Linked DNA regions of Homo sapiens. The protein of the gene in region 4 purifies or fractionates together with the protein of the main gene of each other region. This does not show direct contact. Each region holds a gene or a part of one and is shown on either strand. Other genes may lie near its edges.

Region 1 (3,500 bases), on a different chromosome or scaffold from region 4:
GCTGGGGGAGGCCTGTCCACTTCCCCTCCTCTCCTCTTCCACCTCCTTTTACCTCCCCTTAACCACCCCTTCTTACCCTTGTGTTCTCTTTGCTCATTCCATCGATCTTCTTTAGAGAGACTCGGGACTGGCTTGAATGTATCCAAATAAATACACCTCCTGGAGTTCCTCAGTGAAGTCGAACTTAGCCCGGGCTGTGGCAGGAAGGTGTATGAACCTGGATGCCTCTGACCCATTGGACTTTGGTCCATAGGCAGTGAGAATGGTGTTGTTCATTCTTATGGTTTGGGGAGTGTTGTCTGACAGAGGGGCCTGCTGACACTGTCTCCTCACCCTCTGTGCAGCTTCTGGATGTGAAATTCCAAACCTGGCATCTTCTGGGCCTCCCAAGACTGATTCTTCCTGTTTCCCAACATGCAAATTGCAGGCTCCATAACTCCTCAGGAGCTATTGCTGGCAAAAGGCTATTTTCCCTCACTGAATTTTTGAACACGTTTCAGGATTGTAATGCAGAAGTTTTTATCTCTGATCCTGGGTAGCAGCATTTATTGGCACTGGGGAAGAGGGAAACAACAGAGTGGAGATGGCACACTGTGGGCCTGCTGGCTAAAATGCTTGTGGCTGAAAGCCTGCAGATGTGTTTGGTTTGGTTCGGTTCACATATTTTTTAAATCAGTCAATTTCACGTTGAGAGAAAAATTTTTTAAAAGTGTCTGGCCTAACATGAAAAATCAAAACATCTTCCAACTCAGCAATCACATTTCTAGGGCAATCGGCCATGACAGAGTGTCACTGTCTAATTTTAGGTGGGGGCGGGTGTTTTTACTACAGTCTCCACCACTCCCCATGGTCTCACACCTGGCCTGTGTTTGTGCTCCTGTGCATCTTTGACCTTGGGTGGGGAATATCTTGCATCAGGGTCATGGCTGCTGAGGCTCCTGGGCGTGTGTGCTCCAGAGATAGGCCTCCACTCTGCTCTGACTCTGCTGTTGCTTTGTATGGGGACTGCTCATGCCTTGGGTACGAATCGCTCACTCCTAAAGAGGAGCAGGTGAGAATGTGGGACATCAGAGAGTGCCTGGGTTTGTTTCTTCTCTGAATTTATTAGCCTGAAGAAAGAATTAGTGAAACCTGAAGTTTGGTGGTAGGGTGGGGATAGAAACTGTTGAAGGCCTTGATTTCTATAAATAGTAACCTCCATGTATGTTTGACAGGTGAAAGGAAAGCAAGCCAGGATGGATATTTACGACACTCAAACCTTGGGGGTTGTGGTCTTTGGAGGATTCATGGTTGTTTCTGCCATTGGCATCTTCCTGGTGTCGACTTTCTCCATGAAGGAAACGTCATATGAAGAAGCCCTAGCCAACCAGCGCAAGGAGATGGCGAAAACTCACCACCAGAAAGTCGAGAAGAAAAAGAAGGAGAAAACAGTGGAGAAGAAAGGAAAGACCAAGAAAAAGGAAGAGAAACCTAATGGGAAGATACCTGATCATGATCCAGCCCCCAATGTGACTGTCCTCCTTCGAGAACCAGTGCGGGCTCCTGCTGTGGCTGTGGCTCCAACCCCAGTGCAGCCCCCCATTATCGTTGCTCCTGTCGCCACAGTTCCAGCCATGCCCCAGGAGAAGCTGGCCTCCTCCCCCAAGGACAAAAAGAAGAAGGAGAAAAAAGTGGCAAAAGTGGAACCAGCTGTCAGCTCTGTAGTGAATTCCATCCAGGTTCTCACTTCGAAGGCTGCCATCTTGGAAACTGCTCCCAAGGAGGTGCCGATGGTGGTGGTGCCCCCAGTGGGTGCCAAGGGCAACACACCAGCCACTGGCACTACTCAGGGCAAAAAGGCGGAGGGGACTCAGAATCAAAGCAAAAAGGCTGAAGGAGCCCCAAACCAGGGCAGAAAGGCAGAGGGAACCCCAAACCAGGGCAAAAAGACAGAGGGAACCCCAAACCAAGGGAAAAAGGCAGAGGGAACCCCAAACCAAGGCAAAAAGGCAGAAGGAACCCCAAACCAAGGCAAAAAGGCGGAGGGGGCCCAGAACCAGGGTAAAAAGGTAGATACAACCCCAAACCAGGGGAAAAAGGTGGAGGGGGCCCCAACCCAGGGCAGAAAGGCCGAGGGGGCTCAGAACCAGGCCAAAAAGGTAGAAGGGGCCCAGAACCAGGGCAAAAAGGCAGAGGGGGCCCAGAATCAGGGCAAAAAGGGAGAGGGGGCCCAGAACCAGGGCAAGAAGGCCGAGGGGGCCCAGAATCAGGGCAAGAAGGCCGAGGGGGCCCAGAATCAGGGCAAGAAGGCCGAGGGGGCCCAGAATCAGGGCAAGAAGGCCGAGGGGGCCCAGAATCAGGGCAAGAAGGCTGAGGGGGCTCAGAACCAGGGCAAAAAGGCCGAGGGGGCTCAGAACCAGGGCAAAAAAGTAGAAGGGGCCCAGAACCAGGGCAAGAAGGCTGAGGGTGCCCAGAACCAGGGCAAAAAGGCCGAGGGGGCCCAGAATCAGGGCAAAAAGGCCGAGGGGGCCCAGAACCAGGGCAAGAAGGCCGAGGGGGCCCAGAACCAGGGCAAGAAGGCCGAGGGGGCCCAGAACCAGGGCAAGAAGGCCGAGGGGGCCCAGAACCAGGGCAAGAAGGCCGAGGGTGCTCAGAACCAGGGCAAAAAAGTAGAAGGGGCCCAGAACCAGGGCAAGAAGGCTGAGGGGGCCCAGAACCAGGGCAAGAAGGCCGAGGGGGCTCAGAACCAGGGCAAAAAGGCCGAGGGAGCCCAGAACCAGGGCCAAAAAGGAGAGGGAGCCCAGAATCAGGGTAAAAAGACAGAAGGGGCTCAGGGCAAAAAGGCAGAAAGGAGTCCCAACCAAGGCAAAAAAGGAGAGGGAGCTCCCATCCAGGGCAAAAAGGCAGATTCGGTTGCTAATCAGGGCACAAAGGTAGAGGGTATTACAAACCAGGGGAAAAAAGCAGAAGGGTCCCCCAGTGAAGGCAAAAAGGCAGAAGGGTCCCCCAACCAAGGCAAAAAGGCAGACGCAGCTGCCAATCAGGGTAAAAAGACAGAGTCAGCTTCTGTCCAGGGCAGAAATACAGATGTGGCCCAGAGCCCAGAGGCACCAAAGCAAGAGGCTCCTGCCAAGAAGAAGTCTGGTTCAAAGAAAAAAGGTGAGCCTGGTAAGTAACTGATTTCTTTATGAACTTAGAAGGAAAGGCTGTCTTTAAATGACTTATGGATTCTCTCGGGGAGTGCCACCTGTATCAGTCAGCTATTGTCATAATAAGGCTGCGTAACAAACATTCAAAAAAAAATTCAGTGGCCTTCAACAGCAGTCATTTATTGTTGCTCATGCTTCTGGAGGTTGGCAGATGTGAGCTTTCTCGGTTGGTGGCTCTGCCTCAATCTGGTTTTAACTGGGTTGGTGACTCTTTGCTACAGGTTGAGCTCAGGTCAGTTCCATGTGTGGTCCTTCTGGCGCCCTCCAGGGCAGAGGCCCTTCATAGTTACAACAGAGGCACAAAAGGGCATT
Region 2 (3,500 bases), on a different chromosome or scaffold from region 4:
TTATGTGCCAGAGCCTGTGCTAGTCGGTTTTAAAATTAAATATTTAATTTGAATGGTAATTCTGTGGATGAGATTTATAACAAGAAAACCAAGAGGTTTACATGATAAAGTATACGGCTGAGCTATATAAAAGTGCTGCTTTTATAGGTTAAAAAAGGTCAAATATGACTTTCCAAGATCACATATCCAGGGACTGACAAAGCTGAGCCTCACACGCTACTGAATCCTTTTTGTTCCAGTAAGACATTTCTATGCCGTCTCTTTTATTTTCAAAGTCCCTAGTACTTAATCATTAGTGATTATGCCTAAAGCTGGAGGGAACCTTGTGAAGAAAAAGGATACGATCCTTTTACAATTATATTGGTGGAATCCTTTCCCAATATAATATACTTTTTATCCTTCAATAAAGCCATACTGACAAATTTCAAGGTAGCATAAACATCATTCAGGAAGAAGTTGTAGCTTTTCCACTTACCACAAAGGGTAAGATAAAAGAATGGGCAGGCTTATATTATAAAATGCTTCAAAGGGATCTTATGGAAGGAGTCTAGCCTAATTCAGTCTTCCAAAGGAATAAAGCACAAATAGAATAACCCAGCGTTCACTAATATTAACCTCAATGGTGGTAATAATATCTAATACATAGTGAGGCCTTTACTTTATCAGGTACCACACTAATTATCTTAGCTGCATTAGTACCTTTAATCCCCAACTATAGAATATCTCTTTGTTTTCAGACAGGGTCTCACTCTGTTGCGCAGGCTGGAATGCAGTCCAAGAACATACATCTAATGAACTGTAGAGTAGGAAGATAAATTCAGGCGATTTGATCATACCCTGATTTAACCCCTCTACTGGACTGCCTCAGTGATTAACAGTCACTATCCCAAATATCCTCTGACACTCAATTCTTCCTCCATCTGCAGCATTACCACAGAATTGCCCACCAATAATTTATCTGATTTATTTTGATAAAAATTAAGTATTAATTTACATCTTATTATAATTCCAGAATACAAAATGACGCTTTGGCGCAGAGATAACTAAAAATTCTAGTATTAAGTAGGTGGGAAATGTCACACCACCACCTGAAAACTCTGGCATGTAGTCAAAGCATTCACATCTTCTAGATATATAATAAATCCACAAAACGGAACCACACAGTCCTCATTCTACCATTGTGCACACAAGTCCTTTAACTGGCCATTAGTGGAAAATGCGACATACCTACGGTACCTTGGGCGGTAAGTTGGATTTCGATGAACCGGTCCCTGAAGTTGTGCTCCCTCTGGGACTCCATCCTTCATCTCTCCAATCTCACCAGCCTGGAGAGGCAATGAGAGCTGACAGTGAGTGTCACAGCACAGGGGATAAGATACAGTGCATACAGCTATGTTCAGAATTTTTTTTAGAAGTAAAAAACAAAATGCTTCATTACAAAATTAGGCACTCTCAGTTGCAACACAAACTATTTATGAGTAAATCTTCGTGAACGACTGAAAAGGAAGACAAACCTAGTCTGACTAGAATACTCATTTGCTTAGTCCCAGAGCACCTAACTTTATTTTCGCCTATCAATTTAACATTTTGAAATCGGATACATTTCATTCATCTCTTTAAATAAAATACTCTTTTATTTTTCTTTACAACAAACTTACTTTAAGCCAGTGGAATAAAATTAACTTATTGTACAACTTCCAGGGGAAAGAAAGAACAACTTAAAAAAACAAAAAAACCCACCAACAATGTCTGCAATTCTTGACCATACAGCCATAACTCAACTTTCTTTTCTTTTCTCAAAACATCCCTTCCTCCCCCTAAGAGCCAAATACTGTCCTTCATTATTTCATCAAGAAAGAGAAACAGTCAGAAGACAATTTCCACGTTCTCATTAGCAAATCTACCCAGCTCCCTGTATTTACATTAGAATTTTCTTCTCTCCCATTACCCTGGGTAAGTGGTCCAAGTTCATATCTGAAACCAACAGCCTCTCTATTCTCATCAACTAGACACAGCATGTTAACGCTATCCCTTCACTATGTTTTCACCTTTTCTATCATTTCCATCCAAGCATATATACCCAGTGAAATAGCACCCATCCTTTTCAATTTTTTAAAATTTTGAAATAAGCACAAAGTTACAGAAAAGTTAAATGTAATTCTCAGATCCCATTCAAGTTTCACCATTTATCCCAATGATGCCCTTTATAGCAAAAACACCGTTTAGAATTATGCACTAAAGTAAGTTATATCTTTTTGTTTGGAGCAGTTTTTTTTAATTTATTTATTTGAGATGGAGTCTCACTCTGTCGCCAGGCTGGAGTGCAGTGGCGCGATCTCAGCTCACTGCAACCTCTGCCTCCCTGGTTCAAGCGATTCTCCTGCCTCAGCCTCGCAAGTAGCTGGGACTACAGGCATGTGCCACCACTCCCAGCTAATGTTTTGTATTTTTAGTACAGACGGGGTTTCATCATGTTGGCCAGGATGGTCTCAATCTCTTGACCTCGTGATCTACCCACCTCAGACTTCCAAAGTGCTGGGATTACAGGCATGAGCCACCACGTTGGTTTTCATGACCCTGATACTTCTTTAAAGATTACAAACCAGTTATTTTGTAAAATATCCCTCAACTTGGGTTATTGGTGTTCACTAATGATTAGATATTGTTTTTGCATCCCCAGGGGGATGTCACAAAAGTGACACTGCATTCTCCTCACTGCATCCTGTCAGGTGGCATATAGTTTCAATTTGTGCCATTACTGATAATGTTCACTTTGATAAGTGGTTAAGGTGGTATCTGCCACCAGAGTCCTCCACTGTAAGTTGACTCTTTCCTTCTTTGTAATTAATGAGTACTTTGTGAGGAAGTACTTACAAAGTGCATAAATATACTATTCGTTATCAAATTTTTCAATATATTGGTTTATTTATTTATATTTGTATGGACTCATGGTTTTCTATTTTTTTCAATGAGTTGTAATCTGTTACTATCATTACTGGCCAATGGGAACCCCTTCAAGCTGGCTCATATCCTATTGATGTGTTTCCAACATTCTTTGAGTACTTCTTCGCTTTCTGGCACAACAAGATGTTCCAGGCTCATATTATACTTTCTCTGTCCCAGCTCTGAAATCAGCCATTTCTCCAAAGGGAATTCTTTTTGTTTGAGAATGTTATTTAAAAACAAAAAATTGGGGGACAGGTATGCTCAATGCTGTTACTAAGATATCACGGCTTTCAGGACCTTTCAGTAGACAGAACCATGGAACACACACACACAATGTTACACATATATGTGTGTCTATGTATGTGTGTATATATATATGTGGGTTTATGGCAAACACACGTGCCTACCTTGATCTGCCCATTTAATGGCTTTAGAAGTTGTTGGTGAGGTAACGGGTAAGGGAGAGACCAGGGGTAACTCTGCATTGTAAAAAGCAAATCAAATCAAGCAAAAATCTTGCTCTGATCCCTTATCTTCTTCCAGCTACTACCCCA
Region 3 (3,500 bases), on a different chromosome or scaffold from region 4:
TCCGTGGGCACTGATGTCACCGAGTAAGTGCTCTTTGGCTCCCTGCCACCCAGCCTGTTACCAGTGTAAGCTGTGGGCTAGAGTTGACAGGAGGCCATTAGACCTTAGACAAGCAGTACTTATTACTGACCTCTCCCTGGGCATATGAGACCAACAGATGGACCTTTCTTCTCATGCTGATTGAATATCAATGGGCAGGAGAAGCCAAGACCACCAACCATGCCTCTCAATATTCTCTAGTAACTCTAGTGCTTCTTCATGTAGCCTGGCTTGACTCTTGCTATCTTACAGGGGCCCTGCTCACCCAGCCCCCCACACTAGGCTGTTCCATGCAAATGAGGAGGAGGAGCCAGAGAAGAAGGAGGTATCGGAGCTGCGCTCTGAGCTATGGGAGAAGGAAATGAAGCTTACAGACATCCGCTTGGAGGCCCTCAACTCTGCCCACCAACTGGATCAGCTTCGGGAGACCATGCACAACATGCAGGTCAGTGTCTGGGCGGACAGCTGCAGGAAAGGGAAGACCAAGGCTTGCTGTCTGTCCAGTCTGCCACCCTACCCTGTCTGTTCTTGCCACAGTTGGAGGTGGACCTGCTGAAAGCAGAGAATGACCGACTGAAGGTAGCCCCAGGCCCCTCATCAGGCTCCACTCCAGGGCAGGTCCCTGGATCATCTGCATTATCTTCCCCACGCCGCTCCCTAGGCCTGGCACTCACCCATTCCTTCGGCCCCAGTCTTGCAGACACAGGTACCTGTGTGGGAGAAGAATCTATAAGGGTGAAGGGAAGAAAAGGGCTTATTTCACTGTTACACCATTCCACTTGCTTTGGTCAGGGCGGTAACAATGCCGAAGCCAAGCAGATGCCAGTGTCCTAAGACACTGAGTTGTAATGGTCCTTCAACCTTAACTACTTTTGAGTTTGGGACCTCCATTCCTTCTCTGTGGCAAACAGAGTTATTTTGGAAAGGATAATGATGGGAAAGTTTAGGAAAGGCTGCGGGTACTCCTAAAACCAGTTGGTTCTTTTCAATCCCCACAGACCTGTCACCCATGGATGGCATCAGTACTTGTGGTCCAAAGGAGGAAGTGACCCTCCGGGTGGTGGTGAGGATGCCCCCGCAGCACATCATCAAAGGGGTAAGGAACTTCAGGGAGAGCCACAGTGGGAATGAACAAATACTGTTACATTTATCCAAGAAAATCTGGACCCTGGGTACCTCCAAAACCAAAGAACTCAACTCCTAAGGCCTTTAGGACCCCGGTTCATGGAGTCATCTGCAGTGAAGCTCAAGAGCTTTTCCTTCCTTGGCCTTACAGGACTTGAAGCAGCAGGAATTCTTCCTGGGCTGTAGCAAGGTCAGTGGAAAAGTTGACTGGAAGATGCTGGATGAAGCTGTTTTCCAAGTGTTCAAGGTAAAGGGATACCTGTACTCAAAAAGGTTGTTCATCCTCTCGTGGAATATATATACTTTTTTAGAGACAGGGTCTCACTCTTGCCACCCAGGCTGGAGGGCAGTGGCGTGATCACAGCTCACTGCAGCCTTGAACTCTTGGGCTTAAGTAATTCTCCTGTCGCAGCCTCCTGAGTAGCTGGGATTACAAGCATGTGCCACCATGCATGGCTTCTCACAGGATATTAAACCGTCCAGGCACTGGGATCCTGGGGACCTTTGAGGCTTTATGGAGAAATGCTACCTAGGAAAAGCATATGCTCTGCACTTTCTCCATCTATTTCTGTTTCCTCTGATAGACATTCTTTGTTGTGGCTTTTACACCTGTGTTTGTATATTTTCTTCTTCTTCTGCCTGTCTTTTCTGTCAGGACTATATTTCTAAAATGGACCCAGCCTCTACCCTGGGACTAAGCACTGAGTCCATCCATGGCTACAGCATCAGCCACGTGAAACGAGTGTTGGATGCAGAGCCCCCCGAGATGCCTCCTTGCCGTCGAGGTGTCAATAACATATCAGTCTCCCTCAAAGGTCAGTCTTTGTCTCTTGGGGTGAGGTGGTGTGGCATGAAGGCAGGGACAGGATCATCAAATAATCCATCATGCATTCATTCACCAAGAACTCACTGAGAAGGTATAATATGAAGATGCTTAAGTAATGTGAGATATAAAAAGATGAGTAAGACCCAGTCCTAACTTTGGCTCCCAGGGACACTTTTGCTAAGCCTTGGCTTCTTGCTTCACTCCTCACCCCCAGCTCACAGCATGTCCCTAAAAAGAAGATCTAAGTTTTCAAAACTAGGGGTTAAGGGACTCTTATGGAACCATGGGGCAAGTGGCTCTGAGTTTCTTCAGGGGGCTCCTAGATAAAGAAAGAAAAGCCCTTTAGGATCCCTTGCTATCCTCAAGACCCTGGTCAATACTCATGCTTTCTGGGGTGGGGGTTCAGGTCTGAAGGAGAAATGCGTCGACAGCCTGGTGTTCGAGACGCTGATCCCCAAGCCGATGATGCAGCACTACATAAGCCTCCTGCTGAAGCACCGGCGCCTCGTCCTCTCGGGCCCCAGCGGCACGGGCAAGACCTACCTGACCAATCGCTTGGCCGAGTACCTGGTGGAGCGCTCTGGCCGTGAGGTCACAGAGGGCATCGTCAGCACCTTCAACATGCACCAGCAGTCTTGCAAGGTGGCTGCCCCCCGACACCCCTGCCAGCCTTTGTTCATGCCTCAGCCTTCCCTAAGACCCTTCCTCGGCCCCTTCCTGCCTCATTGTTCCCTTTTCCTCACCTCTGCCTTCATCTTTCTTCTCTTCTGTGTTCATTTCCTTCCCTCTCTATCTATCCCCTTTTCCAGTCTTCTCCTTTCCCTCCCCACGATTTCTTTCCAGCCTCTTGCCTTTAACTTGTTTCTCCACACTTTCCCTTGCCTTTATGGAGAAAGGCTTTCCTCTCCACACTTTTCCTTGCTTTGTGCACCTTCCTCCTCAGTTGGTCATTGATGAAACTGCATTCTCCTCATTTCTACCCCACTGTCTGCCAACCCTGTCAATCCCATCCCTTCTCTTTTGTTCTCTTCCTTCTACTTTTCTTTTCAGTATTACTCTCTGACCTTGGGCTATCTGGGAAGAAGCACTCAGAATTAAATGGTACATATTACACCCTCCCCTGCCAAAACCTGATGATGTCTCTTGAGTACCCTAATACAATGGAGTTGGTTCAGATCTTTGCTCTTCCCAGCTCGGGGAGGCATGCCCATTAGTAGTAGTCCATGGTACCAGTGAAAATCCATCTAGGAAATAGCATATGTTCCCCAACTTTGGGGAATTTAGGGGCTGCTGCTTAAGAGGGTTGCTTTAGAGCCTTTGCAACCACTGCTTATCACTCTGTGGTAATCTGCTGTAATCAAATTTGCAAGGAACTAAAGGCCCCAGGGGAATCTAGATCTAGTAAGACTTCTTCAAAATCCTGATTTCCAAGGCCGATCCAGCTGCTTATTCCCAAGTGCTGACCCACAGCCTTCTTTTATTCCAGGATCTGCAACTGTATCTTTCCAAC
Region 4 (3,500 bases):
CTGAGGCCGTGGTCTGCTCTTGACCAGTAAGCTGAGAAGCTGGGGAGAGACAGTGCGGGAAGGAGGCATTGGTGGGGAGGTGACTGCCAGACAGGGGTTGTCTGGAAAGGAGGGGAAGGAGAGGCGCCAGAGGGGATCTCTGTAAAATGTCTCTCCCCTAAGTGCTAAATTCCTATTTTTTCTCCTCTCTGCTAATCCAACTCCTTTTGCTTTAGGTGAGAATAGCCAAGAGTTCAGCCCCACCTTTTCAGAACGCATTTTCATCGCTGGGTCCAAACAGTACAGGTAAGCAGGGGAGACAAGCCTGAGTGGGAAGGTGGGGACTGGACCCAGCGCCCTCGTCCCCAGCACTTGCCTGGGCCGCTCCTGCTGACCCCGGGCTCCCTCCCTCAGCACCTGTGGTTCAGCTCCTGGAACTCACCCAGGCTTTCCTGGCTGAGCCGCTCTCTCAGCCAAATAAGCTTTTCAAAGGCTTTTCACAGCTTGTGGCTGACTGCCTCTGGGCCACATCAACTTGACATTTTATTTTTATTCTCCTCAGAGTCCTTAATGCACCCCCTCGTTTCCCATCAACAGGGAGGGTGCTGGGAACAGAAGCTGCTTCCCACTCTTGCGTGACCGTGAGCGCAGGCCGGGTTGGTGGGGGGGGCCTTCCACTGTCCTCTATGGGAGAAACCTGCTGGTGCCTTTTCTCCTGGGAGATGCACCGAGTAGGGATGCGGGCGGTAGAAAAGGAGGGGACAGATAGACTTGGTGGCCCGGTAGAAAGGAAGCCAGGGTGGGGCTGAGTCTGTTCCCAGGCTCTGCATTCCCCCACAGATGATTTTTTGAAACAAGAGTTCAAGTGCTGGGCACAATGGCTCTCACCTATAATCCCAGCACTTTCTGAGGCCGAGGCAGGTGGATCACGAGGTCAGGAGATCGAGACCATCCTGGCCAACATGGTGAAACCCCGTCTCTGCTAAAAATACAAAAATTCCCTGGGCATGGTAGCGCATGCCTGTAACCTCAGCTACTCAGGAGGCTGAGGCAGGAGAATCGCTTGAATCCAGGAGTCGAAGGTTGCAGTGAGCCGAGATTGTGCCACTGCACTCCAGCCTGGTGACAGAGTAAGATTCTGTCTCAAAAAAAAAAAAAAAAACAAGAGTTCAAGCTAGAAACAGCTCCTTCCCCTATCACCAGGCAGGTTTTGTATCATTGGAGTTTGGAACCTGCTAGTGATAAGATTGTGGGGAGGGCAGCTGGCTGCCTTGGAACCAAGAAATGCTCAGTTTGGTGGGATTCCTTCTGCTGTCCTGGGTGCCTTTTGGCCCAGGGTAGGAGCCTCTGATAGACACACTTCTTTCAGCTGTCCAAGAGAAGCCTGTAGGCCTCCAGTGGTCCCCAGGACTGCCATGAGTCTGCCTTCTCCATGGGGGCAGAAGATGAGGCCAAGGGAGGGTGGCTGAGGCCATGATCTGCTCCACAGCTGTTCTGCAGCAACCCATCTGTTGCCGGGTCCTTTAATACTTGGCAGGGATCCCAGTCCAGTTAGAGCCATGGCAGTGATGAGCCCCGAGGCCAGCAGAGAAGGGCAGGCTCCCCAGTACCAGGCAGCAGCCCAGGCTGTTCACCTTCAACAGCAGCCAGGGACCCCCAGGAACTGTGAGAATGGAGGTGACCAGCCTTACCTGTTCCTCCATCCGGAGGCAACAGAAACAAGCTCTGCTCAGTCAGAGCTGAGAGGCCTGCCATGAGCGTGGCCCCCTCCTAGGAACTCTCCAGGGGCAGCTCACCTTGGAGAGCAGTGAGCGAACCGTGTCTGCTCCCCTGACTCTCCCCAAGAAGTGCTGAGTCTGTACCCCATCACCATAGTAACAAGCACAGCTTCTCGGCAGCTTGCCTTGGGGCCAGACACTGAGCTGGGCTTTTTAAATGAACTAAATTATTGAAACTTCATTTCCACCCTGTATGGCAGAAAATACCAAACCCATTTTATAAGTGAGATAAGTGAGAAAACAGGTTCCTTGGGATTTAGAAACCTTGCCGCATTCACACAAGGAATGGCAACCTGGGATTTGACCTTGGATCTGCAGGAGTCCAGATACAAGTGTCTGGACCAGTCCATCTTCCTGCTTCCTCGTGCTCAATATGCAAATCTGTCCCTTTTGTGACAGCCAGTCCGAGAGTCTTGATCAGATCCCCAACAATGTGGCCCATGCTACAGAGGGCAAAATGGCCCGTGTGTGTTGGAAGGGAAAGCGTCGCAGCAAAGCCCGGAAGAAACGGAAGAAGAAGAGCTCAAAGTCCCTGGCTCATGCAGGAGTGGCCTTGGCCAAACCCCTCCCCAGGACCCCTGAGCAGGAGAGCTGCACCATCCCAGTGCAGGTGAGACCCTCCACCCACTGCCCAGACCCCAGGTTCATGGGGCCTTGAAATTGGAGCCTGTCCCTGGGCCCTGGCCCTCTGTGCTGATAGCTGTGTTTCCCCCCGCAGGAGGATGAGTCTCCACTCGGCGCCCCATATGTTAGAAACACCCCGCAGTTCACCAAGCCTCTGAAGGAACCAGGCCTTGGGCAACTCTGTTTTAAGCAGCTTGGCGAGGGCCTACGGCCGGCTCTGCCTCGATCAGAACTCCACAAACTGATCAGCCCCTTGCAATGTCTGAACCACGTGTGGAAACTGCACCACCCCCAGGACGGAGGCCCCCTGCCCCTGCCCACGCACCCCTTCCCCTATAGCAGACTGCCTCATCCCTTCCCATTCCACCCTCTCCAGCCCTGGAAACCTCACCCTCTGGAGTCCTTCCTGGGCAAACTGGCCTGTGTAGACAGCCAGAAACCCTTGCCTGACCCACACCTGAGCAAACTGGCCTGTGTAGACAGTCCAAAGCCCCTGCCTGGCCCACACCTGGAGCCCAGCTGCCTGTCTCGTGGTGCCCATGAGAAGTTTTCTGTGGAGGAATACCTAGTGCATGCTCTGCAAGGCAGCGTGAGCTCAGGCCAGGCCCACAGCCTGACCAGCCTGGCCAAGACCTGGGCAGCAAGGGGCTCCAGATCCCGGGAGCCCAGCCCCAAAACTGAGGACAACGAGGGTGTCCTGCTCACTGAGGTAACTAATCCCCCGGCACCTGTATATGTCCCTCTACCAGCAACCTGGGGGATGCTTTTCTCTCTTTATCAGAGTCACTCTTGCCTGTGGTGACAAATCAAACAGTAGGACAGTGCTCATTGTGGATGAAAAGTATCATCTCTTATTCCGCCAATCTCACTTCTCACAGCCTTTTTAGCGTCTTCTGTTCTGAGTTCTTCTGGTTGGTCACCTCCTGCTTGCTGAATGTGGGCACTGCATTAATAGTACACATGCTGAGGACAAGGGGAATCAGCCAGGAGCCACTGGAGATGTTATCATGGCCCCCAGAGACGGAAGATGAGGATGGGACCTGTTTTCACCACCCACCTCCTTCCCTTTTTCCTCTTGTTAACTTCCCAAATAATTTTATAACTTTAAATGATTTTATC

Evidence for each region. The genes of interacting proteins can lie anywhere in the genome.
Region 1: the proteins of MAP3K14 (region 4) and RRBP1 purify together in Homo sapiens (affinity purification with mass spectrometry; one large-scale study listed by BioGRID and IntAct). This does not show direct contact.
Region 2: the proteins of MAP3K14 (region 4) and YBX3 purify together in Homo sapiens (tandem affinity purification; one large-scale study listed by IntAct). This does not show direct contact.
Region 3: the proteins of MAP3K14 (region 4) and NAV1 purify together in Homo sapiens (affinity purification with mass spectrometry; 2 studies listed by BioGRID and IntAct, with this or other methods). This does not show direct contact.

Annotation. Positions count from the first base shown.
Region 1 is NC_000020.11:17,658,243-17,661,742, reverse strand, and holds part of RRBP1 (ribosome-binding protein 1), read left to right. Parts: intron 1-1,214; 5' UTR 1,215-1,235; coding exon 1,236-3,147; intron 3,148-3,500. UniProt on the Homo sapiens protein: Acts as a ribosome receptor and mediates interaction between the ribosome and the endoplasmic reticulum membrane.
Region 2 is NC_000012.12:10,702,824-10,706,323, forward strand, and holds part of YBX3 (Y-box-binding protein 3), read right to left. Parts: intron 1,326-3,500; coding exon 1,228-1,325; intron 1-1,227. UniProt on the Homo sapiens protein: Binds to the GM-CSF promoter. Seems to act as a repressor. Also binds to full-length mRNA and to short RNA sequences containing the consensus site 5'-UCCAUCA-3'. May have a role in translation repression.
Region 3 is NC_000001.11:201,808,127-201,811,626, forward strand, and holds part of NAV1 (neuron navigator 1), read left to right. Parts: coding exon 1-23; intron 24-291; coding exon 292-484; exon of another isoform or gene 485-576; coding exon 577-745; intron 746-1,037; coding exon 1,038-1,135; intron 1,136-1,315; coding exon 1,316-1,411; intron 1,412-1,819; coding exon 1,820-1,979; intron 1,980-2,396; coding exon 2,397-2,632; intron 2,633-3,476; coding exon 3,477-3,500. UniProt on the Homo sapiens protein: May be involved in neuronal migration.
Region 4 is NC_000017.11:45,286,021-45,289,520, reverse strand, and holds part of MAP3K14 (mitogen-activated protein kinase kinase kinase 14), read left to right. Parts: intron 1-215; coding exon 216-285; intron 286-2,156; coding exon 2,157-2,367; intron 2,368-2,475; coding exon 2,476-3,090; intron 3,091-3,500.